Linked DNA regions of Homo sapiens. The protein of the gene in region 1 interacts with the protein of each later gene in a pairwise test. Each region holds a gene or a part of one and is shown in the gene's direction. Other genes may lie near its edges. The genes, in order: HCN1, SRPK2, SYNGAP1 and ARID3B.

What was found.
Region 2: the proteins of HCN1 (region 1) and SRPK2 interact in binary tests that used the Homo sapiens proteins (3 or more experiments, as listed by UniProt).
Region 3: the proteins of HCN1 (region 1) and SYNGAP1 interact in binary tests that used the Homo sapiens proteins (3 or more experiments, as listed by UniProt).
Region 4: the proteins of HCN1 (region 1) and ARID3B interact in binary tests that used the Homo sapiens proteins (3 or more experiments, as listed by UniProt).

Annotation. Positions count from the first base shown.
Region 1 is NC_000005.10:45,684,652-45,693,548, reverse strand, and holds part of HCN1 (potassium/sodium hyperpolarization-activated cyclic nucleotide-gated channel 1), read left to right. Parts: intron 1-8,897. UniProt on the Homo sapiens protein: Hyperpolarization-activated ion channel that are permeable to sodium and potassium ions. Displays lower selectivity for K(+) over Na(+) ions.
Region 2 is NC_000007.14:105,115,179-105,121,123, reverse strand, and holds the end of SRPK2 (SRSF protein kinase 2), read left to right. Parts: intron 1-3,101; coding exon 3,102-3,286; 3' UTR 3,287-4,750; downstream 4,751-5,945. UniProt on the Homo sapiens protein: Serine/arginine-rich protein-specific kinase which specifically phosphorylates its substrates at serine residues located in regions rich in arginine/serine dipeptides, known as RS domains and is involved in the phosphorylation of SR splicing factors and the regulation of splicing.
Region 3 is NC_000006.12:33,421,168-33,430,064, forward strand, and holds part of SYNGAP1 (ras/Rap GTPase-activating protein SynGAP), read left to right. Parts: exon of another isoform or gene 1-1,730; intron 1,731-2,309; coding exon 2,310-2,431; intron 2,432-4,630; coding exon 4,631-4,736; intron 4,737-8,897. UniProt on the Homo sapiens protein: Major constituent of the PSD essential for postsynaptic signaling. Inhibitory regulator of the Ras-cAMP pathway.
Region 4 is NC_000015.10:74,592,128-74,599,436, forward strand, and holds the end of ARID3B (AT-rich interactive domain-containing protein 3B), read left to right. Parts: intron 1-1,007; coding exon of another isoform or gene 1,008-1,010; coding exon 1,011-1,109; intron 1,110-3,483; coding exon 3,484-3,647; 3' UTR 3,648-6,004; downstream 6,005-7,309. UniProt on the Homo sapiens protein: Transcription factor which may be involved in neuroblastoma growth and malignant transformation. Favors nuclear targeting of ARID3A.

The DNA of each region.
Region 1 (8,897 bases):
TTATCCATTTCAAAGAAATGGGAAATGATTAAAAACTGAGCTAATACTCTAAATTCCAGTGTGGAGTAGTTTGGAATATTTGACTTTTCCCTTGTATAAATGGAAAAAAGAAAATGGCAGGCACAAATTAAGCAATTATCATTATTTAGATCTTTTTAAACTGAAAGATATCTGAAAAAATAGATTTTAAAACATAATTACAATATACACTGGTGTTCTAAAACAAACTGCAAAAATAATCATGTACTTGTTTACATTCAGAATATATTTACATCTTATTGTTTCATTTTTTTGTATGATCTCAAAACCAATATAAGATTTTCTAAAATCTATAACGTCAAGATAATGTAATGAAAGAACAAAAATAGGAAAGACAAAATTCTAGCGGTAGTTTTTTTCTACAGGGAAAGGAATGTGTGAGTAATTTTCAACAGATACTAGAAATTTTTGCGGTCATGATCTAGCCTTTACTTTAGGCCCTTTCCTGAAGGATTATTTCAGGGAGGTGCTTTACTACAATTCCTAAAATGTCAAACTTAAGTTCATTAATCATTTAACAACTGAGTGAATGACACTTAAGAGTAATTTCTATGAAGAGTGGGGAGTTATTACAAATGAAGATATCCAGAGGATTCTTTTCCTTGACACTTTTAATAAACCTTTACATGGCCAGAGAAGTTTACTATGTTCTTACTCCAGGGCATGTCGTGACTTTAACACTGTTTCTAGTTTCCCTGCTCACGATAATTTTTAAGACTGATAGCTTTCTACTTTACTTACCTCAAGGGACAAGGCTGTGCTCCCACTGAGACTTTCAGAGAGCTAGCTAGTGCCTCTTTTCCCCACCAGAGCCCAAGAGTGCTATTGCTGTGTCTGGCAGGTAGTTTTCTCTACCCCTGGCGTAAGTAGGGCAGAGTTGCTGTATTTACCTTTTTCCTCAGCAGAGGATGACAATAGAAACCTTCAGAGAGTAAAAAGCAGTCCAATAGTATAGGTACTGTTTGAAATAACTGGGTGGAAGCTACAGAATTTAGTAAACACAACAAGCTCATGTTTTTGTTTATGCTGTGGTATATAAGCACCCAAACTAGGGAAAATAGGGATAGTTACTTAAAAACAAATGTAGCTCGATTTTTCTGTAGTGACAGTATGGTCTTAGTCTTATTGAATTTCATGTGAACAACACATAGACACATTTAATTTGGAGGTTAAATATGATTTTTAAAAATTCATGGTGATTTTATATTAATTAGCTAGAATTTTACTAAGGTTTAAAAGTGATGCTTGGCAAGCATTGTGCTTCCATAGCCAATTGATAGTTATGATATAATCATTTAAATAGGTTGAAAGAATATTTAGAATACTTTTGTGGATGATTTTTATTATGCAAGCAATTTATCTTGGAAGAATTTATCACCAGACTATTTGCCATTTTAGGGATTCTGTCATTATTTTGTTCCATCATGCTTACACAAAGGGACTTTTAAAAAGAATGCTCCTTTCCATATGTATTGCCAGCCAACATCTTGCTCCTCATAACGGAGGCAGTTTTGTATCTTGACTTCTTATTTTTTTCAATTTCTTTTCATCATTAGTATGAGTGTGTGAAAAGCTTATTTTGTTGTAAGTACTCAAGGACTCTAGAGATGGGAGTTACTTCCTGAAGATACCGTCACATCCGTTCTTCCATCTCTGCTTTGAATTGCAGCCACAACTGTACTGATATCAGAGATCACTGATGTGTTCATTAGGGAAGGGAGGCTTCACCCATATTATACAGTTCATAATAGAGAGAACATTTGCTTCCAGGAGCTTCTCACAAGAAAACAATTCAACCTTCTAGGGTTTAAAGACGAATTAGCCTACTGTTATGTTATCTTTGTGCTGAACACACTCTGTATCTGCCAGCAATGCTTATTTTATTTGCTTTTCATATCAACATAGCCAAAATTAACCATAAGAATTTATTTTTTTTCTATGTTAGGTGAACCTTTTTGTGCTTTAAGTTCAATTACATTTTTCTTAGTGGCTCTAGCAACTGTTAGACACAACATGAAATTTCTTCAAAGATTTAAACGTGTGAATTTATTTAGTTACTTTTTCTTAGTATACATGTAAGTTATGCAACTTTAAATTTTAGCAAATGTTTCACTGTTGCATTTAGTAGATATTATGATTTATACTATTAAAATATTATAAGATAGTTTTCATTTTTTTCTGAGCAACTTTCCCTTTAAACCTCCTTCGGGGTATGATTATAAATTGAGAATCAGTAAAGAGGTACACTTTACTAATCATATTTAATTATGTGGACTTGGGTTTATGAACGTGCCTGTTGAATAATGAAAGAAATTTAAATGCACTGGAAAGATATATTACTTATTATTTGTATCATAGGTTCATTTAAGAAAATTATATTCAACTATATCTGCTTGATCAAAAACCACAAACCAAAACAACATCACCACCACAAAGCAAGATAAATAGTATTTGTAATTCTGCATTATTATACTCAATGCACCTATGTCCTATAGTGAGCAGGAAACCAGCAGAATGCATTTAGTATGATTTTCAGGTGATAATCTTATCATTCTGAATATAATTCTTGTGTTTAGCAGATAATTCACTTCATTATTTAGAAACAACAATTGGGCTCCGGAAAAGAACTTTCAAATAGAGTCTCTTGTAAGTACAGTGCAAATTATTGCAGATCATTAGCACTACATGAAGAGTACTGAGCATTTGCAGGGTCTGTGACAAATTTTCATTTTATCATTTTGTGTAAAGGAGTAACAAACTATGAATTAGGCTGACACTATATATTTTAGTTGTAGAAATAGTGATAATAAAGAAAAAAGTCTGCATGCACTATGAAAATTATATTTTCTCTAAGTACTTTTCTTCTAAAAATAATTTTCTTTGTGAAGGCATCTGGATGTACAACTTACCATTAGTTTTACAGGAAAAAAAAATCAGGATTCCTGGTGCATCCTGGAATTTTATGTTTTTGCAAAATAAACCTTCATGGCTCTGTTAATTCTATTTGTATATATGTGCTACAGAAACTATTCAAGGGACTTTGTAGAAGAATATATATAGAAGTAAAGAATATATATAGAAGTTGATTATTTTTGAGTTGAGTGTTTATCTGACACATTTCACCCAACTTTGATAAGATTGATTTCATGACTCTTTCAAGTTATGTTAGTTAGTTTTCTCATAGTATTTTTCTATTTTGTCTAATAGTTGACCACGCAGTTAAAGCAAGGAAGCAACATTACTCATGCTTTAAATTTACAACTTATAATTTTATTTATATAAACCTAATTTTATTTTCAGGTCACTAGCTGTAACTCTAAAAACATAAGGCTAATTTTACATACATACAAAGTTAGTAAATATTTATAAATTTTAGACTATCAGCTTTGTTGTATACAGTTATTCAGTATTTTTTAAAAAGTGCTGCAACAAACATCTTCGCACCTTACTCTTCATTGTTTTGGCTAAAGTTCAGGGAATGGAATGACTGCCTATGAACATTCTAGAGATTCTATACATATTGATTTGACCAATTAATACTGCCTCCAGTTTACAGATTTCTTAAAATGACACGAATAACGTAGGTTCTCCAAGGTTGACATTCCTGTTATGATATTTACAGGCTGTTTTAGGACAGAAAATGTAACCTGTCCTCCATTTCATTCAACATAGAGTGACAAGAGTGATCTTTAAAAAGCAAATCTAATAATATTGTTATGCTCTTTAAAACCTTTAGTAACTTCCCATTACTGTTAGACTACATTGGACAAACTTTCTATGAGCTTCAAGACCCTGCATAATTTCAGCCGATATATGCAGCCTCATTACATGCCACTCATTCCAGCTCTGTGTTCCAGCCACTTGGGTAAATTTTTAGCTCCTAGAACAACCTGAGTTCTCTCCTGCAACTAAGATTTTAATGTGACATTACCCCCAAGCTTGAAATACTCTTTTCACTTTTTATCACTCCACATAACTAGTTTCTACTCATCTTTTAGATTTCCATTTAATCATTGTGCACACACTTATTTTTCTATCTAGGCTTTCTGTTCAGCAGAATTTATAATTATTTTTATATGTGTCCTTTCCCTGGAATTTAAACCATGCTACCTTATGAATCTTACTCAGTTTTACATTCCCAATGTTGTAAAAATGCACATAATAGACTTTTCTTGCCAAACTTTCTTAGAGGCTTCATTTTTTTTTCTTCAACTTTTATTTTAACTTCAGGGGTAAATGTGTGGGATGTGCAGGTTTGTTAAATAGGTAAACATGTGCCATGGTAGTTTGCTGCACAGATCATCCCATCACCTAATTATTACATACAGATATGGTTTATTTTTAACAGCTTTTTTGAGACAAAATTCATATACCATACAATTCACCCATTTAAAGTAAGCAATTCAATATTTTCTAGTAAGTTCACAGTTATGCAGCCATCACCACAATCAATTTTAGAATATTTTGTCATCCTAAGGAGAAACCCCATATGCATTAGCACTCACTTTCTCTCCTCTCCCGCCCTCCCGCTCAGCCTTAAGCAACCACTAATCCTCTCTCTGTCTCTGTAGATTTTTGCTTATTCTGAATATTTTATATCAGTGAAGTCATGCAATATATAGTATTTTTTATTGGCTTCTTTCACTTAGCATAATGTTTTTTCAAGGTTCATTCATGCTGTTACCTGTGTCAGTACTTTATTCATTTCCTTGCTGAATAACATTCCATTTTATGGATATACTACCTTTAATTTATTCATTTATCAGTTGATGGACATCTGAGTTGTTTCTGCTTTTTGGTTATTGTAAATACTGCTGATATGAATATTCTCGTACAAGTTTTTGCACAGAGATGTTTTCATTTCTCTTTGGAGTGAAATTTCTAGGTCATCATAACAGACCTGTAATAAATATTTATTGACTGAATGGACAAAGAATTATTCTCCAAGCAGGTCATGAGAACATTTAATCTTAGAGTTAATAAATTCAGATGAAAGCAATGAAAGCTCTTATTTTTTCCTACAGTAATACCTGGCATCTCCTTCCCACTGGCACCTGCAAGTATGTGCCCCAACTATTACATTTCCCTGCCCAATACACAGATGAATAAATGAAACTGCAGAGAAGTTATGTAGCGTGAACATGGTGACATAGATAGATAGTAAGAACTGGGCCAGGAATTCAGTTCTTGTGAATATTAATTTTGTCACTTCAACTCTTTTACATAATAAGAAACAAGGCTGCCAGTATAAATAATTCTCCAAACCTTCTGGGAAACGTGATGGATTGAACCTAATCATTTATACTTCCTCCCTCTTGAAGTCACTCCAAAATAATATGAAAAAGCACAGACACATTGGTAAGTAGAAGAAAGAGGAGACATCAGAGAATATAGATCTCAAGAACATTTGTAAAATAGGAAGTTAATGGACAAATTATTCCACTTCCACAATCCTTCACCCATTGAAATCCAGAAGAATTCAGGACTTGGAAATGCCAGTTATGAAATAGTTCCAGGAAAGCCAGACTGAAAACAGAATTAAATAAGGGTTTCCTTAGTGAATACAGAACTCCCTGTGCTCACATTAGGATGCTTGGAGCCAGGCCAATTTTTCTCAGTCGGGAAACTGGAGAAAATACCTCCAAAGGGAGACATTTCAAAGTCTTCAGATAAAAAATCATGTTTATTGCCTAATCACTCTGCAAAAATTCCCGCATGTGTACATTGAGGCTGTGATTATATTTTTGGTATGGCATTGGTTAATATGGAACTGAAAGCAAAAGATAACCAGACATTTGAGAAAAGTCTCATGAGGGAAGACTAAATCAAGCAGAGAAAGACTAAATCAAACAGCCAAAGAAGGTCCAGAGGGATGGCATAAGGAGAAATGACAGTATTATAAAAAATACTCCACAAATGATATCTTCATAAATATTTTATCTGCACAATAAGAACACGTTGCTATGAAAAAAATAGTAAGAAATTTAAAAAACAGCTCTTGGATGAAATGTGTTAGCAGATAAAGTCTAGGAAGCCCGTTAGAATTAGAACAAAAAGACAAAAGGGAATAGGAAATATAAGAAAATATAGCAAAACCAATAACTAATTTATAAGGTCAAAATCTACCATAAGGTATTCTAGAATGATAAAAAAGTGAAAATGGACATATGGAATTAATAGAGACATTTTTGATAAAATTTTCCAGATAGCAGCAACTGAAATGTCTGTTCTGAGGAACTTATGGAATACTTAGCATCATGAAAGAAAAAGACTGTCCAAGGATCATTACACAGAAGCTTTACAACACCATTGAATAAGCAACAAACAAACAAATGACTAAGACTTTTCAAAGAAAAAGTTACATATCAAGAAGTGGGAATAATACTTTAAGGTAAATGACGATGTAACAAAGTCTGCAAAATTCTGAGAGAAAGTAATCTCCATAAGAAATCCATACCTTGCCATAATACAAAATTTAAATAAAGATATTCAGAAATTAAGAACTCTAGTATTAACTACCCATGTACCCTTTCTTAGAAAGTTATTAGATGACATGTTCCTGCAAAACAAGAAATTACACCAAACAACATGAAGACATAGAAGCTAGGAAATGGGCTCTAACACAGAGAAACCTGAAGTCCCAGGAGTACTCCAAAATAGCTAGCCTTGAAAGAAACCAGTCCAGACTGGGGCGGTAAAGCAAAGCGTTCTGGAGGAAGGCCTTCAGGGTAGGAAAAACAAATAGATGGATATCAGCATTTGATAAATAATGTTACTAGGTGTTCCAGAGATCATTTGGAACAATATATTGATGACTTTCATATTTTGTAGAGTACATTGGAGACAAGTAAATAAACAAAAGAACTTTATTAACTCCAGAATGATCTAAAGGTGTCTAAAAAAGGGAAAAGAATCACAGTTCCTTGCTTGGTTCAACAGTACCTAATGGTTATTTGGTCATAATAATGTAAACAAGTTGACTGTTTTAAATAAAGATTGTGGTGCAATTATTCTAGGTTGGTGGGAGGGCAGGAGAAACGTAAATGTGGTTTGGGTGATGTCAGAAAGCTAAGTCCTTGTGTTCCACAGTTGGCAGCTAATGAATAGTATTTAAAATTGATAAATTAATTTGTCTTTGAAATATGAACTAAACACTAAAAGAAACAATTATGGTGGTTGAATTTGGAAAGTGATATGTAGGGTAAAAGGAAAAGGGAGAGGCTTATATGTTCTCCTTATAATCCTTGATGCTGTTTTGCTTAAAAAAAAAAAAGACTGGGCATATATTATTTTGAGGTAACAATATTAGGAACTGTTTGGGTCAGAATCTGAGCTTCACCACCTTAGTAACTGGACCTTAATTTTCTCAATTATAATAGAAAAAAATATATATATATGTAAAATTCATGGGGTATATAGTATATATAGTGTGTATATATACTGTATATGCTATATAAACATTTCTATATATGTAGTGCTTAGAAGTTATGCTCTGCATTTAATGCTATTTAAGAGTTAGTTATTTGTATGAGTGTAAAATTAAAACAGAATTAAGGCATGTTAGTTGTTTGAAAAATTAAATATTCTCTAAGTACATACTCTAACCGTTTCCATAATTTCTGAAGAAAAAAATATATGAAGGAATGGCCATGTAAATGGTGTGCTGCTATTTCCTTTTTACCTTCATGCAATCCCTGGCAGCAGAAGCCCTGATGTGCAATGCCATATTTTATATATGCTGTGTGAAATTGGTCTAGTCATGAGGCAGTTAGCACTGGAAAACTTTTTTTTTTTTTTGAGATGGAGTTTCGTTCTTTTTGCCCAGGCTGGAGTGCAATGGCACGATGTTGGCTCACCGCAACCTCTGCCTCCTGTGTTTAAGCGATTCTCCTGCCTCAGCCTCCCAAGTAGCTGGGATTACAGGCATGTGCCACCACGCCCAGCTAATTTTGTATTTTTGTTAGAGATGGGTTTCTCCATGTTGGTCAGGCTGATCTCAAATTCCTGACCTTGGGTGATCCGCCCGGCTCGGCCTCCTAAAGTGCTGACGTTACAGGCATGAGACACTGCTTCCGGACGGAAAACTTTTAATATATCCTGTTTCTGCAAAATTTTCCAGTTTAATCTCTTTAGTTGGTATAGAATGCTACCGTATTGAACATTTGGAAATAGCTTTTAGGGAAAATTATAATGGCATTCATTGGGTTGCATGTGCTACTTTCTGTTCATCTTTCTTTTCATCAGAAAATGGCATAGTTAAACCATTTGGGATGTTATTTCAAATCAGTTAAGTATTACATATGAGGCAAATAAGATGAGTTATAACCTGATAAATCTTTCCTTTTCTTTTTTATTGTCATGTTTAACAGTCTAAAAATTGTTATTTAGAAATATAATTATTTCTAGTTAGGAACGTAAAAGAATTTGAGAAATCTATAAATTTGACAGAATTAAAAGAAATCTTTGTGATATCATTTCTAGAGCAGTTGTCACTTATACCCTTGCAGAATGTTTTAGCCTTATTTTATTAAAAAGACAATGCACCTTATTAAAATTTACACTACCTAGGTTGTTTGAGGAACATGAGCAGAGACTGAAAAAATGAATATAGAAAGTTACTTGATTAGTTTTTTGTTTATTTGTTTTTTGAGACAGAGTCTTGCTTTGTTACACAGGGTGGAGTGCAGTGGCATGATCACGGCTCACTGCAACCTCCGCCTCCTGGGTTCAAGCAATTCTCTTTCCTCAGCTTCCAGAGTAACTGGAATTACAGGCATGCACCAACCACACCTAGCTAGTTTTTGTATTTTCAGTAGAGATGGGGTTTTACCATGTTGGTCAGGCTGGTCTTGAGCTCC
Region 2 (5,945 bases), on another chromosome or scaffold:
TTCCTGCCTTGGCCTCCCAGAGTGCTGGAATTACAGTCATGAGCCACCGTGCCCGGCCGATGACATTTCTTTAACTTGTTAGGGTGCTACTTTTATAGTAAGAGCAAATGGTGAAAATGTGTTTTTAAAATATGCTTTCCCCTCTTATTCTTAATTATCATTCTAAGTGATGGAGGTGGCTACATTTCTTGGGCATCATCTGCAGGGCTGGAGCTGGCTCATGGACTCGAGACCCTCACTCATTCAGTGAGCCCACTCTTGTTGTGTCTCCTAGCAATAGATACAGAGTTGGGGGCTTGGGCTTTGTGTTTAAGTAACCTTATCAACTATTTCCAGGGCAAGGTTACTTCTTATACTGAGCTTAAGGGTTTGCACACATAATCATTATAGCATCTGGGTGAGTTGATTTTCCTTTGCATTATATTATAAACTTTTTCCACAAAAAAAGTCCACACATTTTTTTTTTTTTTAGAGGCGGTTCAGTGTTTTGTTATATTGCAGTGCTGCTCTGTGCTCAGGACCATAGGTGTTTAGGACTCTCCTGCATATACTGTTGTTTATAGACTGCTTCTTTGCACAGTCTTTACCTTGTTAAAAGTAGTTAGATATTTTACTGCTCCTTGCGAATATTTTTACCAGTTTATAGTATGCCTAGTTATGGATGAATAGTTTCTCATGGCCTTTCACTATTATATTGTTTTGCTCACTGTTACTATGCAGCTGTTAAGCATTTATAGTGGTAAAACTTCTCTTTTCATGGAAGATTGTACTTAAAAGATGCCTTGTTGATGGATCTTAGTTTAACACCTGGCGCCTCAGAAATAGGTTCCTTTACTATTCTCAGCACACAGTGCTTCTCTGTAGTTACCTATATTTGCAAACCTGGAGAGTATTTTTTCTGAGATAGAATAGATTCATGTCATAAAAGTTCGCTCCCTTTCCCAGAGAACTTGGTTTAGTCACATGTGAGCTTTCTTAGTTTGCTTTAACTGTTGCTGTGGTGAGATCAACAGTCTAAATCAATATAGTCATATTACAGAAAATGTGGAAATTGAAATAACCTACTAACAAAAGCTGATGTTTTGATTCAGTTGATTTCCATCTTAATGAGCATTTTAATAATCTTGTGATTATCTGTAGGACATAGTTTGACTGTTCTTTTACTGCCTAATGTTGTACCATGATCTTCTCCCATGTTGTTAAGTAATATTAAATACTATTAAGTGAATCTACCTTGGTTTTCTTTTAACCACCATTTTACTATTACTGGCTCTTCGTAATTTTGCGAGTACATATAATTTTGTGCCAGCATATATTAGGCATGAATTTGGGGTGGTGCAACCAGGGTTTATCTCCTTGGGCTGGATTCCTAGAGCCGGAATTTCAGGCTTAGAGGGATAAACCTGCAGTCTCTGTTCAGACTTTGTTTTTATGGAGACTGTGTTTCCTTCAACAGGAGATCCTTTCCCGCCTCTAATATTACAGGTTCATTTCTTCATCAACACAGACCTGATGTCTAGTCTGGATGCGATGCTTTACTCTAGCTCCAGTCCTCATATTGGAAACAGAAGCTTATTTTACATCTCAGCCCCTTTAGCAAGCAGCCCTCTTAAAAGATTCTTTATACGGAACCCTGTGCACAGCATGATTGCAACTTTGTAGACATACTAGTGTGTAAGAACACTCTTCACAATAGACACAAAAGAAGAGCAGTTGTGGGTAGGATTGTAGGCTACTTCCCCTTTTGTTCTTATACTTTTCTGTAATGCTCTTTCCTTTTCATTGTGTTTTTAAACGGGAGGGCTTTTCCAAGTTGACTCGAATAAATGGGTGAAACAGAACAAGCCTCCTGAGAACACCTTTGTGAGCAGAGCACTGATTATCTATTGATGCATCTCATGAAAAAAATGTACCTTGTTTAAATTAAAGCAGTTGAAAGGGGAGAGAAGTCAGTCCTTGCATGAAGTGTGCCCTGCAGGTGCTTGAATGCCTCTCTCCCCCCACCGAGACCTGGCTGCTCTGAGGTGTGGGCACAGGGGGGTGTTTCCTCTGCAGAAGCTGCTCAGGATGCACTGAGGGGCACCTAAGGAGGTCTGTGGGCAGGGGTGGGATGTCCTATGAAAACTTCAAACAGGCAGAGAAAACGAGTTATTCACAGTGAAATTATCTGGAGCTTTTGACAGTTTATTGCCTTTTTGAAAAGGTTATGGGGAGACAGGGTTTCGCTTGCTCTGTCCCAGGATGGAGTGCAGTGGCATGACCTTGACTCACTGCAGCCTTGACCTCCTGGACTCAAGCAATGCTCCTGCCTCAGCCTCCTGAGTAGCTGGGATGTACCACCGTGCCCAGCTACTTTTTTTCTTTTTAAGTAGAGACAGGGTCTGGTCTATGTTACCCAGGCTGGTCTGAAACTCATGGGCTCAAGGGATCCTCCTGCCTCAGCCTCCCAAACGGCTAGGATTGCAGGAGTGAGCCACTGCCCTCAGCCCTTTATTGCAGTTTTGACTTAAAAATAACCTTTTTTTTCTCTTATGAAATGACCATTACAGCTCGTAGGCCATTTACTAGCTTGTTAGTCATTCTGTTATGTCAACCAAAGCTGCCTGTAACCGACACTTTTCATACTGCAGCTAGCACAGTTTGTGAAGTATAACTTCAAGGTTTACAAATTAATGTCCTAGGATCTTAGATCTTACAACAAATGCGTAGACATGAATGGTGTTTGATTTGGGTTGGCCTCAAGTTTGCAAATTTTACGGAAGATCCCAGGTTGAAATGAGAGTGGCTTGCTTCAACCTTTGGAAAAGAAAACACTCTGGGCAAACTGAGCCCACTCCACTTACTTAAAGAAGCTTAGAACTAATGTGAATGAACTATTAATTAACCTCTATTTAGATCCACCAGGCTTACTTGAAATATGCCTTGGTCATATGTACATGTAATGATTATTGCTTAGTGGGGAAAAGCTGGTGTTCTTTGTTGTTGCTGTACAAGTGTTGAGCAGGTGGTTGTCCGCTTCACTGAAAAGAACCTGACTGGACCAACAATGGGGAATGCAGATTTGGAGCTTTCTTGACATTGGCCTGTTTTTTCCCCTGTAGGAGAACTGCGACACATCACCAAGCTGAAGCCCTGGAGCCTCTTTGATGTACTTGTGGAAAAGTATGGCTGGCCCCATGAAGATGCTGCACAGTTTACAGATTTCCTGATCCCGATGTTAGAAATGGTTCCAGAAAAACGAGCCTCAGCTGGCGAATGCCTTCGGCATCCTTGGTTGAATTCTTAGCAAATTCTACCAATATTGCATTCTGAGCTAGCAAATGTTCCCAGTACATTGGACCTAAACGGTGACTCTCATTCTTTAACAGGATTACAAGTGAGCTGGCTTCATCCTCAGACCTTTATTTTGCTTTGAGGTACTGTTGTTTGACATTTTGCTTTTTGTGCACTGTGATCCTGGGGAAGGGTAGTCTTTTGTCTTCAGCTAAGTAGTTTACTGACCATTTTCTTCTGGAAACAATAACATGTCTCTAAGCATTGTTTCTTGTGTTGTGTGACATTCAAATGTCATTTTTTTGAATGAAAAATACTTTCCCCTTTGTGTTTTGGCAGGTTTTGTAACTATTTATGAAGAAATATTTTAGCTGAGTACTATATAATTTACAATCTTAAGAAATTATCAAGTTGGAACCAAGAAATAGCAAGGAAATGTACAATTTTATCTTCTGGCAAAGGGACATCATTCCTGTATTATAGTGTATGTAAATGCACCCTGTAAATGTTACTTTCCATTAAATATGGGAGGGGGACTCAAATTTCAGAAAAGCTACCAAGTCTTGAGTGCTTTGTAGCCTATGTTGCATGTAGCGGACTTTAACTGCTCCAAGGAGTTGTGCAAACTTTTCATTCCATAACAGTCTTTTCACATTGGATTTTAAACAAAGTGGCTCTGGGTTATAAGATGTCATTCTCTATATGGCACTTTAAAGGAAGAAAAGATATGTTTCTCATTCTAAAATATGCATTATAATTTAGCAGTCCCATTTGTGATTTTGCATATTTTTAAAAGTACTTTTAAAGAAGAGCAATTTCCCTTTAAAAATGTGATGGCTCAGTACCATGTCATGTTGCCTCCTCTGGGCGCTGTAAGTTAAGCTCTACATAGATTAAATTGGAGAAACGTGTTAATTGTGTGGAATGAAAAAATACATATATTTTTGGAAAAGCATGATCATGCTTGTCTAGAACACAAGGTATGGTATATACAATTTGCAGTGCAGTGGGCAGAATACTTCTCACAGCTCAAAGATAACAGTGATCACATTCATTCCATAGGTAGCTTTACGTGTGGCTACAACAAATTTTACTAGCTTTTTCATTGTCTTTCCATGAAACGAAGTTGAGAAAATGATTTTCCCTTTGCAGGTTGCACACAGTTTTGTTTATGCATTTCCTTAAAATTAATTGTAGACTCCAGGATACAAACCATAGTAGGCAATACAATTTTAGAATGTAATATATAGAGGTATATTTAGCCTCTTTTAGAAGTCAGTGGATTGAATGTCTTTTTATTTTAAATTTTACATTCATTAAGGTGCCTCGTTTTTGACTTTGTCCATTAACATTTATCCATATGCCTTTGCAATAACTAGATTGTGAAAAGCTAACAAGTGTTGTAACAATAATCCATTGTTTGAGGTGCTTGCAGTTGTCTTAAAAATTAAAGTGTTTTGGTTTTTTTTTTTCCAGACATTGCCTTGGTCATTGCCCTATAAATGATAGAATCAATGAACATTTGCTATCAGAGTAGTGTCACTAAAACTAAATACCAGCATTCCTGTTGCAGCAGATGTAGTTGTAGAACATGCATTGAGGCGTATTATAAGGAAATCATTTATTGTTTTTTAAGGGCAGAAGGGATTTAGGAGAAAAGCTACAGTATAGATTGATTCTCTAGAATATCAATGATCCCTTTTCATCCATGGTTCATCAAAAACATACTAACTGCATTTGTTTGATCATTGCAAATTTAAAACAAAACAGCATTTGCTGTTAGGAAACAAGACACATAATCCTCTTAGGAATTACCATTATATCACATTACCACTGTGAGGTAGAATGGATCATTCATTAATTTCTTTATGAAATTTGCATGCTAAGTTTTTCTAATGAGGCTGTAGGTTTCCATGTAAATTCTGTGATAGATAGTGGCTGTAGACTGGTGATGCTATCCGTGATTTCTATGAGAAACATCCTTACAAGAACCATAGGGCATAATTTATATCTTCCCTAAGTGTAAAAGGATTTTTATCAGGGTGATAGTATACTTGAATGAAATTTGTCTAATGCAGTTTTTGCTTATGTTGGAAAATAAACTAGATTATGAATTTTTACAGGTGTGTCCCTTATGATAAAACAGCCTAACTAGTTTATAATACAGAAACGGTTGTTCTAGAAGGAATATACATTTGTATTAGGCATAATATGGCTTTATCAGATTCTTGGCGGCTTGTTGATAAAGAATGCACAAAAACTAAATGAGAACCACTGGTTATGCTAAACATTATAACTAGCTCTCTGACTTCAATTGAATGTCCTATCTATCTTTTCCTTTCTGTAGTCCATGTGAAATCTTCATGGAAAATGACAAGCAGTGGATCACATATGTGTTTATAGCAGATACAGGAGCTGGCTATCTAGAAGTTGGCAGACAGAACTGCCCAAAGGCAGAGAAAAGGTGGATATAAGATCTTCCGAGTCATAAACTTCTTAGGTGAAAACCGATTTACTAACTTGCTTCTTCCCATACCTGGACCATACATAACTAGTTACCACGATAAAGTAAGGAAACTTTCCATTGGAGTAGAGAACTTCTTCAGTTTCTATCCATAGTTCAGGTTATTTCCTAAATTCTCCTTTTTTCTCCCCCTTTTAAATAACTTGAA
Region 3 (8,897 bases), on another chromosome or scaffold:
GTCCATCACCTATATCTTTCCCCCCATATGGTGTCCGTTCCTTATATGAGTCCCCCTTCTGTCCTTCCCCTATATCAGTCCCCTCTCTGGTGTTCATTGCCTCTCTCTTATCTCTTTTCTATGTGGTCGCTCCCTTATATCTCTATCACTTCTTTACTAGTCCGTCTTGACCCCTTCTCATAGCCTCCGCATTAGGTCTGCCTCCTTTGCTCTGACACATGTCCAGTCGAGCCCTTCAGGTGTATTCCCTTGCCCCTGGGCATTTACCATCATTTCTGCCTCCTTTTCTATCTACTCCTATTATTTGTCTCCCAGACCATTCCTTGTCACCACAAGTCTGTGCCTACCCACTTTCCCTTAATACCTCAACTCTTATTATCATTTCTCTTTTCTTGTCTCCTCTACTTATTGGGGTGTTGGAGATTTGGGGTACAAAGACACAGGTTTTGATGATTAGAACAAGGGATCCCCATCTCAGCCCTTGAGGGATTTCTCATCCTAGTAAAAATTTCCCGTTTCTCAGCCATGTTGCTCTGCCTCTTGCATCTGCCTCCCAGAATCATTCTTCACCAAGTCCAGACAGTATGTGTGTGTGTGTTTCTAGAGTTGTTCCTAAGTTCCCTGCTGCCAGGAGAAAGATGCCCTCTGAAGTCTAACCCGCCTCCCTTGGCTGCAGCCTGAACCAGCCCTTTCCCCAAATGCTTATGTGTATCAACAGATTTCTCCTCTGGGTATACCAAGTGTCTAAGTGCGGTGGGCATGTTGCCTGCAATGTCTGTAGTTTCAGAGGCTAGGTATTGGTGATCTCTGTATCTAGAGAACATTAGTTAGTCTCTGAGATGGGTTGAGATAGAGTTTCAAAGTATGTGGTTTCTAAATGGTGGACATTCTGAGGGTTCATCGCTCACTGTGATCTGGAGGTTGGGTAAATTTGAGAGACATATTTATAGACAGAAAAGGGCTGAATTTGCAAAACTCTGCTACTCAGTGCATTCTGTTGGAATGAAGCTCAAAGACCAGTTCTCCTGCAGTATACTCATGGTTATCCCATAAAGGTGACAGAGTTTGATCTTTTTTCCATCTAAAATCTGATACCTTAAGCCTAATTTCTAGCTCTTTGCTGTCGCCAATGTGACATCTCTCTTACTTCAATAGGGCCTGTGTGGCATTGGGGTTTAAAGGAGAGGCAGTTTGCAGGGAGAGCGGCATGGCAAGAACAACAGAGCTGGGGAAGGAGGACCCTGGTCTCATCTCAGCCATAGGCGACACTTGGTCTACTGTTCTCTCTTCTCAAAGTTTTGTTCCCATCTCCAGCTCTTGTCTTTGGAGGCCCCTCTGTGTCACCAGGCCTGGATATTCCATTCTTTCCCCCTGACATCTTTCTTCCTCAAGCTCCTCACTGTGCCTTGAGAAGGCTCCTGACCTATGGAGTGGCTTCCATCCTGTCCACTGAGACTAGGTGGGGTGAGGTGGTGGGGGCAGTGTTGAATCTCTGGGCACTGAATGGGAGAAGAGATAAATTTGGTCTCTACTTGTCCAAACAAGGGCATATTTCCCACCTTCTGCCCTGGGGCCTCCACAGCCAGATGCCGACAAAAGCCATCTTCTCCTTACCACCAGAAGAACCAGAACTTTCCCTAAAGGATGAGCAGGGTTGAACTAGGGGAGGAGGGCACAGAGGAGGGAAGAGTTGGGAGGGGAGGCCCTCTCATGTCTCTGACTGTGAACAGGTAAGCTCCCCGACTTCTTCTTTTCTAGATATTTAGCCCTCAGAATCTCATGATCCCAATGTTCCTACACACACACCCCATCCTTCTTTCCCACAGCCATGTAGCTTTCCTCATACTCTTTTATAGAGGGGTGGTGCCACCTTCCAAGTCCTTGTCTTCTGCAGCTATTTGGATGCCTTCCTCTACCCAGATATCTGACACCAACTTCTCTGTTTTTCTCCTGCCAATTTTGCGGCACCTCTACCTTATTTTCCTGAAGTAGATGGAGAGCTCCTTCATCTTTCTCTGCCCCCAAACGTGTACCTTCTCTGTCATATAATTCCCATCCCTGAACCTCTGCATTTCTTCCCCCAAGTCTCCAGAGCCTTCTGTGATGTGATCCTCTCCTCTTTTCCCCTTTGTATAAATGCTTGTCTTGTGTTCCTTTAGAGTTGCCAGGTGTCTCACTTTCAACTGTGATCTCCTGAAGGCCGGTAGGGTCCCCTTCTCACTTTGTGGACTCTCTTCTTGCCATTTTAGGCCTCTGCTTCCAAATGCATAGAGCCTCCCTTACTGTTTCTGTGTGTCTCTGTCCTCCAGATGTACGGGGACCCTCTATGCACCGAACCCAATACGTTCATTCCCCGTATGATCGTCCTGGTTGGAACCCTCGGTTCTGCATCATCTCGGGGAACCAGCTGCTCATGCTGGATGAGGATGAGGTGAGTGTGGTGAGAAGGCTGGGAAAACGCATGTGGGAGAATGGGGAGAGTCCTCATTAGTGAAGGGGAGAGAGACACAAAGAAGGCAGACAAAGAAGAAACATTTGCAAATGGCAGGAGGGTGGCCATTGAGACTTGGGTTGGAGTGTGACAAGAGGGGTAGTCATTCTCTCATCTTGGGCAGGGAGTCTTTGAGGGTTATGAGCTGTGTTGGGGAGGAGATGTGGTTCTGAAGATTTCGGGGGTGGGGAGGCTCCTGTTTTCACACTGTCCATATTGTAGGATAGGTTAGAATGGGGAAGGGGAACTGAAGGGTTTGGAGAAGGGGTGAAGACATGGAAGGCCCTCCCAACCAAAGCAATCCTCAGGACCCCTCTCTGCTTTGCCCACTGAGCAAGACTCCCAGTCCTTTCTCCATCAGGGGGCAGAGTGCAAGAAGAGAAATTGCAGGACGCAGAGAAAAGGCAGGGGATAGAGGAGGTTTTAGGTAGCTGGAGGATACTGGGAAAGAAGACTGAGGTCAGTGGATCTTGGCATGATGGGGTGAAGACTGGGAGAGTGATTGAGATCAAGGTTTAGAGAGACACTGAGAGGGCTTCTGCAAGGGAGTGGTTGGACATCAGGAAGGAATATAAGGGAGGGGAACTGGGAGTATGTGGAGTTATCTAAAGGAGTACAAGTGGAGTAGGGGCAGGGACTAGCCAGAGTAAAGGAGATGAAACGGACAGAGGCCTCTTATGGGAGGTGGTGGCCAGGTATGGAGATCTGAGAGCCAGGGAAGTGTGGGTTCTGATTTGGGAGCTGGGTCAGCAGGAGTGTCCATTGGAGGAAATAGAGGATAAAAACTGGAATGGTGCCCCACAAGTGTGAGTCAGGGAATGGGGGTGATTTGGGGGACAAGCTTTAAAAAATGGTAGGGTAGCCTGGAAAACCAAACGTGGTGAGAGATGGACCCTGAAAGTTATTGGGAATGGTGTGATGAGGAAGGGTTAGAATTTGAGTCAGGGCTAACTAGAGTGTCAAGGGACCTATGGGGGCAGGTGAGAGTGTGGAGAGATGGCTGGGTAGACAGCTTCCAGGCCACAGAGTAAAGTAGAGGTGTTAAGGAGAGGATATGGTGACTTTGAAAGGAGAGGTGGCTTGGGGAGTCTAAGTTTTGGACACCATTGGGAGACATTTGAGTGACTGTGGTCAAACCCCTAGATCAAGGTTTGGAGTCTGTAGGAGAAATGGGGGAAACTGGAACCCAGAGTGGGGACTGTTATAGGGATGAAGAGGGAAGACAATGGATTGGGGTAATGAAGGAATGACAGAGATAGGGACAGACTGAAGGGACCAGTGGCCAGCAAGTTGAGGGGCAATAGGAATGGCCGGTCTGGAGCAGGAAGGGCGTGTGTGTGGGAGGAGGAGTAGATAGAATTGGGAAAATGAGCAGCCTGAACAGACGCAGGGAGTTGGAATTGGATGGGTGGTGGAACTGGGGCTGGGGGATAGTGAGGGGTCTGTTCCTGTGGCTCTTTGTAGAGGTGGAGGAGACTGCAGGGGTGGAGGTGTATGGAGGTAGGGATGGAGGTGGACAGGGGGAGCTGGGTGTGAAGCTTAGGGAAAGGTGATGGCTGAGGGGAAGAAGGGAACTGAGAGATGCTGGGTCGGGTGATGGAAGGAGATGAAAGGTGGGGGAAGGTGACCAGGCCCTCTGGCGGGAGGGGAGGTTGGGTCCCAGTCTGGCCGCAAGCCGGGCCGTGGGAGGGAGACAAGCTGTGGATCCTGATTATAAATGCAGCTTCTGCTACCCCCGTGACAGGCTCGGAGGGAGAGAAGGGGGTAAGGGAGGTGGGAGGTTGGGAGGAAAGCAGGGAGAATGGAGGAACTGAAGGTCAAGGGAAAACTGGATTCAGGAAGTAGCTAACTTCTGAGGAGTTGCAGAAGAGCTGAGTAGGGTTTGGGAGAATTCTCCGGAAGGTGTTTCAAGACAAATGGAGGGAGAAAAGAGGGTGGGACGGCAAAGAATGAGAGAGAGAGACTGGGGGAGAGAAGGGAGAGATCCAGTCACCAAGTGTGGAGGGGCCGGGGCAGAAAAAGTGGGCAGGCTTAGGGGGAAAAGGAGGCCCGCCCTTCCTGGGAGGAGGCGGAGGGGGGAAGAGGGAGGGGAGGGGCGGCGTGGGCCAGGGAGGTCTGACACACCCCCACCTCCCCTAGATACACCCCCTACTGATCCGGGACCGGAGGAGCGAGTCCAGTCGCAACAAACTGCTGAGACGCACAGTCTCCGTGCCGGTGGAGGGGCGGCCCCACGGCGAGCATGGTACGGCGGCCGAGCAGGCTCTCATGACCCGGACAGGCGCGGGGAGAGGGCTGAAGATGGACCGGGCTGGCGGGGCGGGGGCGTCGGGGAGCGGCGGGAGCTGGCCGGGGGCGGGAGAAGGCGGAGACAAAGTCTTGCTTCCCGAGGGGAGATGGCGCCCTCCTCTGGAAGGTGGAGCGGGACAGGGGCTGTGGGTGAGAGGCCCCTGTGGGTCCTCGCTCGGCTTCGCTCCCTTTCTCCTCTCCAGCAGTGAAGTTTGACTATTTTCCTGGTGCTTGTAAAAATAGTCTCCTTAGATCTTTAGCTTCCAGTCCGTGTGTTCCTGCCCCTGCCCCTCCCAGCCCCTGGTCTGGGATCTTGGAAAGAATGACCTAGTTCCTGCCCTCCCCCCAGACCTCTTCCCCACCCCTATGCTCCTGATTCTTCTTCCGGACCTTCAGTCCTTGAGGTCTCCTTTTATTACCCCCTGTTTTCTCCTCTCATCAGCTGCTTCTATTTTCTGCAATTGTATCACCCTTTCTCTTTCCTCCCTGATTTCTCTTATTTTCTGTACCCCTCTTGATTACCCCGTCCCTCCCCTCTGCTCCCGGCGAAAGTCCATCAGACTCCCATCTCATCTCCTTTCTGTCTGTAGAGCTATCTGCGCGGTCTGTCTCTCCAACTCTCTCCCTCTCTCCATCTGTCTCTTCCCCTCCCTCCCCCTTTCTGCCCCCCCAACCCCCTCTTTAGTCATTTAAAAAAAGATTTTTGTCTTCCTGAGAAGTTCGCTTAAAAGGTTTCCATGGGAACAGTGAGGGGAGATGAAGGCAGAGAACAGAGATCTGCAGCCAAGGTGCAGAGAGACGCCCTCAGCCCCCGGAAACCCCCTCGTCACTGCCCCCTTCCACTTCATTTCCCTTCCCGGACCTAGCGATCCAGGTTCCCCATTCCTCCAACCCCCAGGTGACCCCTTTTTCCCACCAGCTCCCCCTCCCTTCAGGAATTCAAGCTACCAGTTTCTCTCCCTTAGAGAGCCAGTGACCTGTCCCCATCCTTTGGCTCCTTCCAGCCTTCTGATAGGTCCAGGCCCTACTAGCCTTGTGGGCCGGTTTGGGGACCTTGGGTGGGTGGGTGGGTGGTCAGGGATGTGTGTCATTGTCATGGAAACCCCATACCATCGGGGTGTGTGGGTAGCACATCTCTGTGAGGCAAAGTCAGGTGGTGGTGGAGTGTATACAGAGAATGTGTGTGATGTCTGTCACATCTGTGTGTATATGTATATGTGTGTATGTCATGTTCATGTCTGGGGAAGATGTGTGTGTTTGTGTGCATGTGTGTACACCTGCGTTTCCAGGCCAGAATGGTCACATGCTCACAGAGCATGTTTATCATGTGTCCTGTGGTTGGCAGATCTGCCCACTTATTCCCCATCTTTCTCCTTATCCTGAGTCCTCAGGGTCTAGGGGTCTCTGGCGGGGGTCTCCCGTGTGTTTTGGGTGGGGACACCGTGTGTGTTTGGAGTTGAGGTGGCATGTGGAGGTTGCTGTATTGGGGTTCAGTAGGGGCTGGGAGGGGTTCCAGGGGCATATGTATTTGGGGGGAGGGCTTAGTGAAAGTTGATGGGGGTGAACGTTTAGGGTCTTCAGGCAGACATGGAATGTGTAAAGGGCATGGAGGATGTGCAGTGGACATAGGGGTCGTTGGGACCTTGGGGACTTGGCAATGCCAAGGTGTTTGCTGAGGCTGTGGACTCTCCAGCCCGGGAGAGGTCGCCGGACCTTTGAGGGGCATTGGAATCCTGGGCTCCTCCTCTGCTGGGTGGAGCCGCGAACCCTCGTTCTCTCCGCGGTTTTGTGTGTGTGGGGGGGTCCTGCTCAGGAGGGGATGGTGGGTGGCCTGGTTTGTTTTGGGGGTCCCCTTGCCCCCCTCCCCCGTCTCTCTCGCGCTGTCTCCGGGCGACAGGGCTCGTGACAGAGGCGGCCACGGCAGCAGCGGTCGCCTAGCAACGGCGGCGGGGCCCGGGCAACGGCGGCAGCGGCGGGAGCGGCGGCGGAGGGAGCCGTTCCCGCGGCCGTCACCGCGCGGCCGTCCCGGCCGTCCCGGGCCCCGCCGCCGCCCCCACCGCGCCGGGCGGCGCGAGCCGGGCCGTACCGCCCCCTCTCCCTCCGCACCCCGCCCTTCCCCCGCGCAGGGGCGGGGCCCCTCCCCCACCGGGGACACCCCTGGCCCCCCCGGGGGGCGGTGCGAGGTAAGGGCGGGGCCGGGCGGACTAGGAGCGCGCGTAGAGGGGGGGGCGCCGCGCGCGTGGGGCGGGGGCGCGCGTGTGCGTGGGCGCGGGGAGGGGGGTGGGGAAGCCGCGGTGGCGGCGGCGGCGGCGGCAGCTGCTCCCTCCGCATGTTCTCGCTGCATCTTCCGAGTGGGGGGAGTTATGGTAACCGGAGGGGGACAGCGGAGGACGGGAGGGTCGGGGACCGGCCTCGTGCGGACAGGGTCTTGAGCACGCGGGGGCGGCCGGTGTGTGTGGGATCTTGGAGCCCCTGGTGGAAGGGGCAGCCCGTGTGTCCGCGTGTGTGTTCGTGCCCATGCTCGTGTCTCCTGTGTGTCGGTGCCATGTGCACACGGGGGCCCAGTTCCTCGTGCACACATGTGCAGCCATCCTTGTGCAAGTGTGTCCTGTCTTATCTTGCCTCTGCCTGTTTCCTGCCTAGGGGGCTGTTGGGCCAGCCACGGGCTTGTGGGGCAGTCCGCGGCCTTGCTGGTCCATGTCACCTCTGACCCTGAGCATGCATATCCCTGGCTGGGGCTCACCTCCTGTCAGGCTTCTGTGTGTGGGAATGTGTGGCCCTATGAGCAGGATTTTCTGTGTCCCTGGTGGCAGGTGTGTGTCTTTGCATGTGTGTTCCAGCACTGGCCTGAGTATCTGTGTCAATCCCAGCATGGGTGTCCAGGGCGTGTCTGGATGTGGGTGGTGTGGCTGGGGGGAGTAAGTGTGTGAATGTGTTCCTTGGAATTCTACTGTGTATGAAACACCTTTGGGCTGGGCAGGTGTAAGCCCTGCTTGGTCAGTAAGTGGGGACAGAAAAGCTTAAAAAGGGAAGAAATGGGGTAAAGAGGAAAAGTGGGGAGGGGATAGGAGAGAAGGAATGAGAGAGGCTTGAAGAAGAGAGCAGAGAGCAGCAGGCCAGGGAGAAAGAATAGCTGGAGAATGGGAATGTGGGAGAAAGCCAAGCCAGACTTAGAAGAGAGAACAGGGGATAAGAGCTTAAGATGGGGAACTGGATAGAGATGGTGGGAGAAGAAGGGGTCTGGGAGCTGGGGAGGCAGTGGGGAGGAGAGAGTCAGGCCTTCTGGTAAAGTGATCTCTGAAAGAAGAAAGGGAAGAAGATGGGAGAAGGCACTGGATTCTTGTAGGCCTTGCAGGATCAGGCTTGGTTTTGGATCAGGGAAGGCCACTCAGGCATACGGGCTGGCTCACAGTGAGGCCTGTCATAGCAGGGACTGTCATTAGAGGTTCATATCCCCAGCACAGAGCTCTGTCTCCCATTTCTCTGCTCTGTGTCCAACCCTGTTCTTCGCCCTTCTCTGGCAACCTCCCTCCTCTGGCTCCCCTTGAGAGCTGCCAGCTGGGTGTGGAGAGGAAGAAAGGCCAAAGGGAAGGTTAGGGATTTGGAGGGCAGGGGGAGATTCTGTGGGTGATGGCAAGATTAGAGATGTTGGAGGGGCAGGAGTCCAAGCCCTTGCTGTGTGTGTGTGAGTGCCATTGTGTGTGTACACAGGGTGTGTACATGTGTGGGTGTGTGCACAATGCCTGTGTTACGGGTTTGTGTAGGTGGCTGTTATGTGTGTGCATGCGTGTATACATCGTGCAGGCATGGGACATGGAGACCCAGGATCACAGTTTGTGCTTTTCAGGTTTGCTGTGTGTGTGTGTACACGGGTGTGTGTTGTTTTCTCTGTACATGTCACTGCATGCAGCATTAATAACAGGATGTTCTGTGTTTCTGTCACTCTGCCCCCCCTTTCCTCTGTGTTTCTGCTATTCTTTTCCTGCGGCAACAAAAGTGTTTAATAAGCATATGTGTATGTGGCCTCTGTGTACCTGTGACTTATGAGTGAGTTCATGGATCTTAGTTCTTGGTAATATGTGTAAGGTTATATTACTTCCAAGAACCAAGCAAGCCA
Region 4 (7,309 bases), on another chromosome or scaffold:
CCAGCACCTCACTGGATGTAGGCAAGAGCAGGGCACCGTCTGCAGGTCTGGGAGGAAGACACCCCATGTTCCTGAGGCTCAGCGAGGGGCCAAGTTGCCCCGGGCTGGACAGTGGGACTCAGGAATATAGACAGAAGGAGGAAACACAAGTTTGGCAGCATAATTGACATCCTTTCCCTTCCTCTTCACATTGTTCTGGTGCCCCACATTCTCTTCCTCAAGCCACACGCCCCTTTTCCCATTCACACACATTCTTTCCCATTCTGGTCCTGATGCTATCTCAAAGCAAACATGAATGAGATGTGTGGGAAGGAGCCAGGTGTGAAGGGAGCTATACATATTCCCAGGCTGCCCCTCCTACCCCATTGCCCTTGGGGACCAGAAGGAAACTGGGAGGTAACAGCTCATCCAGGGCCAGGTACCCTGCTCCTGCACAAAGCAAAGGGCTGTTAGAAAAGACAGCTCACCGGGAAGAATTCTGAGTCTGGGGTGAGCCAGCCAAAGGCCGTGTGTGCCAGCACTTGCAGGCTTCCACAAACGCCAGCTGCCTGGGTGGTCATGGAGGGGAGGGGCTGAGGGCGTAGACTCCTCTCTCTGAGGGACTCAGAGTCAAAGGAAAGAAAGGGCAGGTGGGTCCTCAAAGTTGGGGCTGGGTCTCATTGATCTCTGATTTCCTGGGCCTGGTGTATAGTGTAGTTCAGGGTTTGCCCGTCACTTGGAAAGTGCCAGTGCAGAGTGGTGGGGCCGGAGCCGGCCTCCTTGCCTACTGTGATTCCTTTTCTCTGGGAGCAGAGGTAGTTGAGGGGATGAACTGGGTCAGTGGAAAAAGCCAGCAACAGGAGATTGGCGAGCCTGGGATCTCCTGCCATACCCTACACTCAGGAGAAGGTTACATAGATGCCTTTTAACAGCGTGAGGCTTTGACCAGGGGTGGCCAGGCAGCATCAGAGAGGACAACAGGAGTGCTGTGGAAGGCTTGACCAGGCCCACTGTCTCCCTGTCCCCAGCAGAAGACAGAGCAGAGGCCTCGGCTGCAGCACTGAACCTGACCACGAGTAGCATTGGGAGCATTAACATGTCTGTGGACATCGATGGCACCACCTATGCAGGTGAGGCCCTGGAGCTCTGGGGGAGGCCCACGTGGCCGCAGCTAGCCACAGGGCAGCTCTGCGGCTGGCCCTGCCTCTTACCCTCTGTCTGAACACCTCCCACAGTGGCTTCCTTTTTCCTGGTCTCAGAGTTGCAAAGGTCAAGTGGTCCTCTGGACTAGTAGACTGTGGATTGTTAACAGGATGATAGGTCCCTCCCACTTTGGCAGAAACCCTTCACCTAACCCTTTTAGACCAGTGGTTGGCTCGTTAATTGAAGAAGTCAGTCAGTGTCCCACAATCCCCAGGTCTTCTCATGCACAGCCTTTCTCTGACTGTAATTCAGCTCTTCTCTTCCTTTTGCAGACTGAGACACAGGCAAAGGAACCCCAGTATAGGAGAATCAGCTTACATTGTTAAGCTCCCTGCCCCCCAGTCTTTTACAGTTATCTTTTCCTAAACCTAATTTGGCAACAGTGTTTTGTTGGTTGGTTGATTTCGCACCTTTACAGAGTCTTTCTAAGGGTTTAACTTAGTATTCATGACTGGGCACGGTGGCTGATGCCTGTAATCCTTGCACTTTGGGAGGCTGAGGCAAGAGGACCACTTGAGCCCAGGAGTTTGAGACCAGCCTGAGCAACATAGCAAAATCCCAAATCTACAAAATACAAAAAAAAATAGCCAGGCATGGTGGTGCACACCTGTGGTCCCAGCTACTTGGGAGGCTGAGGCCAGGAGGATCACTTGAGCCCAGGAGGTCGAGGCTGCAGTAAGCCGTGATTGTACCACTGCATTCCAGCCTGAGTGACAAAGCAAGACCTTGTCTCAATTAAAAAAAAAAAAAACAAAACTTAATATTCATAAAAACAGCAGTCCTTTTCCCATTCCCATTTCATTGGTTTACGGACGAGCTTGGGAACAAGCCCACCTGACTCTTGTTAAGCACAGCATTGCTGGGCGCGGTGGCTCACGCCTGTAATCCCAGCATTTTGGGAGGCCAAGGCGGGTGGATCACGAAGTCAGGATATCGAGACCATCCTGGCTAACACAGTGAAACCCCGTCTCTACTAAAAATACAAAAAGTTAGCCAGGCGTGGGGGCGGGTGCCTGTAGTCCCAGCTACTCGGGAGGCTGAGGCAGGAGAATGGCGTGAACCTGGGAGGCAGAGCTTGCAGTGAGCTGAGATCGCGCCACTGCACTCCAGCCTGGGCGACAGAGTGAGACTCCGTCTCAAAAAAAAAAAGCACAGTATTATGAGTGGGGGCCACCAGGCCTGGCCCAGGGCATCACCCACCTGTTTTACCAAGGGCCCAAGGGCATGCGGAGTGTCAGCCAGCCTGGCAAGGTGTCTCGTGGAGACAGGCGAAAGCCCTACAACTGCACCTTCTATCACAACTGGGAGTGTTTCCTCAGGGCCTACTCCCATTCTAAGGGCCACACTCCCTCAGAGCACCGCCCTGCAGGCCTCCTGGGAGCATGCTCTGGATCTCTGCTGGGCCACTCACTTCAGAGAGAGGACAGAGTGTAGAGGAGCAGTGGTGCCAAGTGGGCTCACCAGTCATGCTATGTCTGCAGACTCTGCTCAGAGGTCTCTACCTGTCACAGGAGGCCCCTGGAGGAGGTGGGGCCTGGTGCCCTTTGCCTCTTCATTGTGCTGTGGTTTGGGAGGGTTGGGGGTTGGAATTAGGTCCATGGAGAAAGCAGGGAAGTAGGAATTCAAGGCCTGGATCTTGATATCCTTTTGTCCTCTGTCAAGGAGAAAGGAGAAGGTAACTCCTTCCCTCTCAGAATGAGGAAGGGTCAGAAGTTGAAGGCTCCTCAAACCCCTGACAAGAAGGGAGCCAGTCACCCACCCCACCTGGCTCTGTCACCCAGGCTGGAGTGCATTGGTGCGGTCATAGCTCACTGCAGCTTCAACCTCCTGGGCTCAAGTGATCCTCCTGCCTCAGCCCCCTGAGTAGCTGGGACTACCCATGCCCAGCTAATTTTAAAAAAAATTTTTATAGAGACAAGGCTCTTGCTGTATTGCCCAGTCTGGTCTCAAACTCCTGGCCTTGAGCTATTCTCCTGCCTCACCCTCCCAAAGTGCTGGGATTATAGTTGTGAGCCACCACACCTGGCCTTGGTGTTCCTCTTTGTGTACCCTGGGTACACCTTGTCTCAGAGCATTTATGACATTTTAGCAAAATTACTCTGTCGACCTATCTGTCCCCCTCCCCAGCCCATCAGCACTTCAAGGCAGGACAGCATTTGGATCTTCTCCCATCACCCCCTAGCACAGTGTCTACAGCGGAGTCAGGCACAGGCTAGGCCAGCGGTGAATACTTACTGAAAGGAGCTGGCCCTCCCCTTCGCTCTTCCTCTGCCCACACTTGCTTCTCTTCCACCCACCAAGGTGTGCTGTTTGCCCAGAAGCCTGTGGTCCACCTCATCACGGGGTCTGCTCCCCAGAGCCTCGGCAGCAGCGCCAGCAGCAGCAGCAGCTCTCACTGTTCACCAAGTCCTACCTCATCCCGGGGCACCCCCAGCGCAGAGCCCTCCACCAGCTGGTCCCTCTGATGGGCAGGACCCAGCTTCCCACTTGCCACTCTCCTGTCGAGAGTGAAGGAAGTTGATGCACAGAATTTACCTCATCTCACAGAGCCCACGTCGACGAGCACCATTTGGCCAGACATTGAGAGTTTGGACGTGTCCGTCTGTCCAGGCTCCATTCAGGTCCTGCTGTACTCTGGGGGCAGGGAGAGGCTAGAGGGGCAGGACAGACAGCGTTGTCCAATCAGGGATTGTCCTGGAGAACTGGGTGGGGGTCTGTGGGTGTCCAGCTTCCTCCAGGGTTCCCCAGCCACCTCCCAGCTCAGGGCACAGTGTATCGACAATCTGTCAGCCGACGCAGGGCTGGAGGCCCTCCATTTCCCTCCCCTTTTAATTTATTTCCCTGACCCTGCCTTCTGCCATGACCCCAGGGCCACTAGTCTCTTCCCCTGTTTTTAAGTCCCATGTGGGGCTGCCAGGAGCCAAGAGCATGCCTTCATGCCCTTCTCTGCAGAGCATGGGATGGGGCCCTTCCAGCCCACTTTGCCTACTGTTAGGTTCCTGGGGTACGGGTCCCTCAAACACAAGTCTTGAATCAGTCCTCAGGGCCCCAGATCCCCCTTCTAATAGTCTGAAGGAAGAGGCTGTGAGGGCAGTTCAGGGCCAGGGCCCACAGGGCATCTGCTGATGGGAAGGCAGAGCCTCGGGGCTGCCCAGCCCTGGCACCTGCTTCACACGGACCATTCTCTGACCGCCCCCGCCAAACCTCATGCTCCCCACTTGCCCTTATTGGCCTGCTTTCCCAAAAACAGCCCACTCATCCTTTCCCCAGCCCTCTTCAGCCCTCCCCAGTCCTCCCCAGCCTTCTTCAGCCTTCTTCAGCTCAGCCCTCTTCTATTTCTTATGGGGCCATCTTGGCCTCACCATCCCCACACGTGCCGATGTCAGGTTCATTGAAATACCTCAGATTTGTAATTGTTGATGTTTGAGTCTTCAGGAAGTATTTGCATCTCTGAAATCTTTTTTATATGTGTTTTGCTGACTTTTGTTTTTTTTTTATTTTAAAATTTTTATCGTAGCACCAAAGAAATGAAAACAGATCACCCCCAAAGCCAAGCAAGTGATTGGGTAACCCGGCCCCTCTGGCCCTTCCCTCAAGCCCAGTGAGGAGGTGGGTGGAGGCATGCAGGGGAGACGACTCAGGGATCGCGGGGGCGGGGAGGTGGAGTGGAGAGGCCCGCTCTCACACCGGGTCGGGCCCTGAAACTGTACCAGTTCTGAAGACCGTTTTCTGCCACACCCCCACCCCCAGCTGACCAGGGAGGCAGAGGACACCTCCCCATCACTCAGCATTCCCAGCTCAGGGCACAGGCAGGCTGGGGTCCTCGCTGGCCTTGCCAGAGGTTGAGCCGCCCCAGGGTATGAGGAGATGAATAACTCCACAGCTCCTCCTGGACCCTGCGCGGGAGCAGGCAGCTCCTGTGCTGTAAAGAAAATTGATTCGCTTGCGGCTCACCTCAGTCGAGGAAGCCCTGGAATGTTCAGCAGAACACCACCACTGTGACATGGGGCTGTGGCAGTGGGAGACACCGCGCGTGGCGTGGGTGTGTGTGGCAGCGTGGCTCGCATTCAGTCCTGTGTAGGAGAGGAAAGGGAATCAAAAGCTTGAGCACAAACAGATACCTCAGCCCGGTAAGCTGCAGCTCTGCTCAACTGCGTCTTCTCTCAGCCCTCCACACACACTCACCCCCACTCCCACACACATACACACACACACACACATACCCCATCTCCCGAGGGCTGACCTCCTCTGGCCTCAGCCTGCAGGGTGTGGGCAGAGAAGGGCATCTGGGACGTGGTGCCAGTGAGGAGCCCAGTTGGCTGGCACTGGGCCCATTTGAAGGTGTCTCAGACATTTGGCCAGTATGTCTTTCTCAGGGGTTTGGTCACAAAGGATGGACTCTTCCCACCCAGAGGATGCAGGGAAAGCACACTGTGTCTTTCCGGTCATTGGATCCTCTCCCTTTCCCCAGGCAGCTCGCCTGGCCACACCGTTGGAGTGAACCCTCACTGCCCTCAAGGACAACAGCAGGGTGTCACCCAGAGCCCGATGAGGGGTGCCAGCAGGTGCCCCCACGAGTGGGGCCTTGGCCCAAGCAGAGCTTCCCCTGAAGGTGCCATCAGCCAGGGCAGCTCTGTCCCCTCCTGCTCTCCATCTTATATGTATTCTAACCAGGAAAAATGTGATAGCACATGGGTAGCCTAGGCAGTGAGTAAATACCTCAGATGTCCTCCTGCAGCAAGTGTCTATATGTTGTGGTTATTTTCTATCTTACATGTTCTCGAATGTTTATATTTCAATAAACCTCTACCTCTTCACACAAGCAGGTCTCTCTCAGTTGCTTTGAGTGGCCTTTCCACTGGACAGTACTGGGGAGAGGTGAGCTCCTTCAGAGTGAAAGGGGACTGAGTGAACTACTCCTGACCCCTTGATTTCTCCTGAACCTTCTCCCCTTCACCCACGCCTTCTTCAAAGGGAAAGCTCACTGAGCTCACTCTCAGCTAACCTTGTGTGTTAGCAGGTTTCTCTGGCGTTACCCCAGAAGCTCCTAGAAAAGCCTGCCCGGCAGCAAGCCACAGGCCCCGCCACGCCATTGGCCAGGATTGAGTCACGTGCCCTCCCCAGAGCCAATGGGAGCGAGGGGGCAGGGTGACCGGGAATGACCTTAGACTGCCCGCCCTGCGCGGAGGGAGATCCACTACAGGCTGCGCCTCTGCCCCTGCGAGGGGCACCCCTGGGTCTCTGGGAAACGGAATGGAGGGTCTTATGGAAGAGAAGGTTTGGAACCACCGCTGGAGGGAAGGGGAGAAGAAAGCAAGCAGGAGTGGCGCGAACAGGAAGGGACTAGGGATAGAAGCCGGGCTTGGACACAGTGAGGCACGAACCCCGACAGACACAGAGACAGACAAGGGGTGCTGATCTCCTCACTGGGCGGGGTGGGCAGGAAAAGGAACAGGAGCTGGAGCTAGAGCGAGGGCTGCGAGCGGCGAGTGGATACCCGGCCTCAGGGAGGAGCTTCCAGGAGGGCAGGGGTCTCCTTTGGAGCAGCACCGGGGACGTTTGCTCGGCAAGGGCTTTTTGTGCGAAGTAACCGAAGCCAGTCAGGCTAATGGCGGCAGAGAGAAGGATTTATTCTTGCACCCAGGGTGTGCGGAGGAGCCCAAGGGCATTTGGACCTGTGTTGACGTCCGGAAGGGCCCGGAACCCAGGAAGCTCTGCCCGCAGAGGGTATTCCTCTCCCTCTGAAGACCACCTCAAAGCTCAACTTTATCACCTCCACGCATGAGACCGCCGGCGGCTGAACTAAAATCTCACCATCCCAATTCCAGTTTCTGGGAATTGTCACCTCCATTCGCTCTCATTAGAAATCCAGCTTTTTTCACGAGGTGAATAACAGGGCAGTTGACAGTTCCCAAGTTTTCTGTGTCCAATCTTCAGCCCTGGAGGGACTCTTCTGCTCCAAGTCCAGCGATCCCGGGAGGGGGCCCACTGGTCCAGTACGGCTCAGTACCCAGCCCTGGATCCACCAGCTGACGCTGGAAGGAGTGGGTCATGAAGAACTCAGCACGAACGCAGCTGGGTACGAATTCCCAGAGATGTCCTGTCCCTCCACGGTACCAAGGACCCC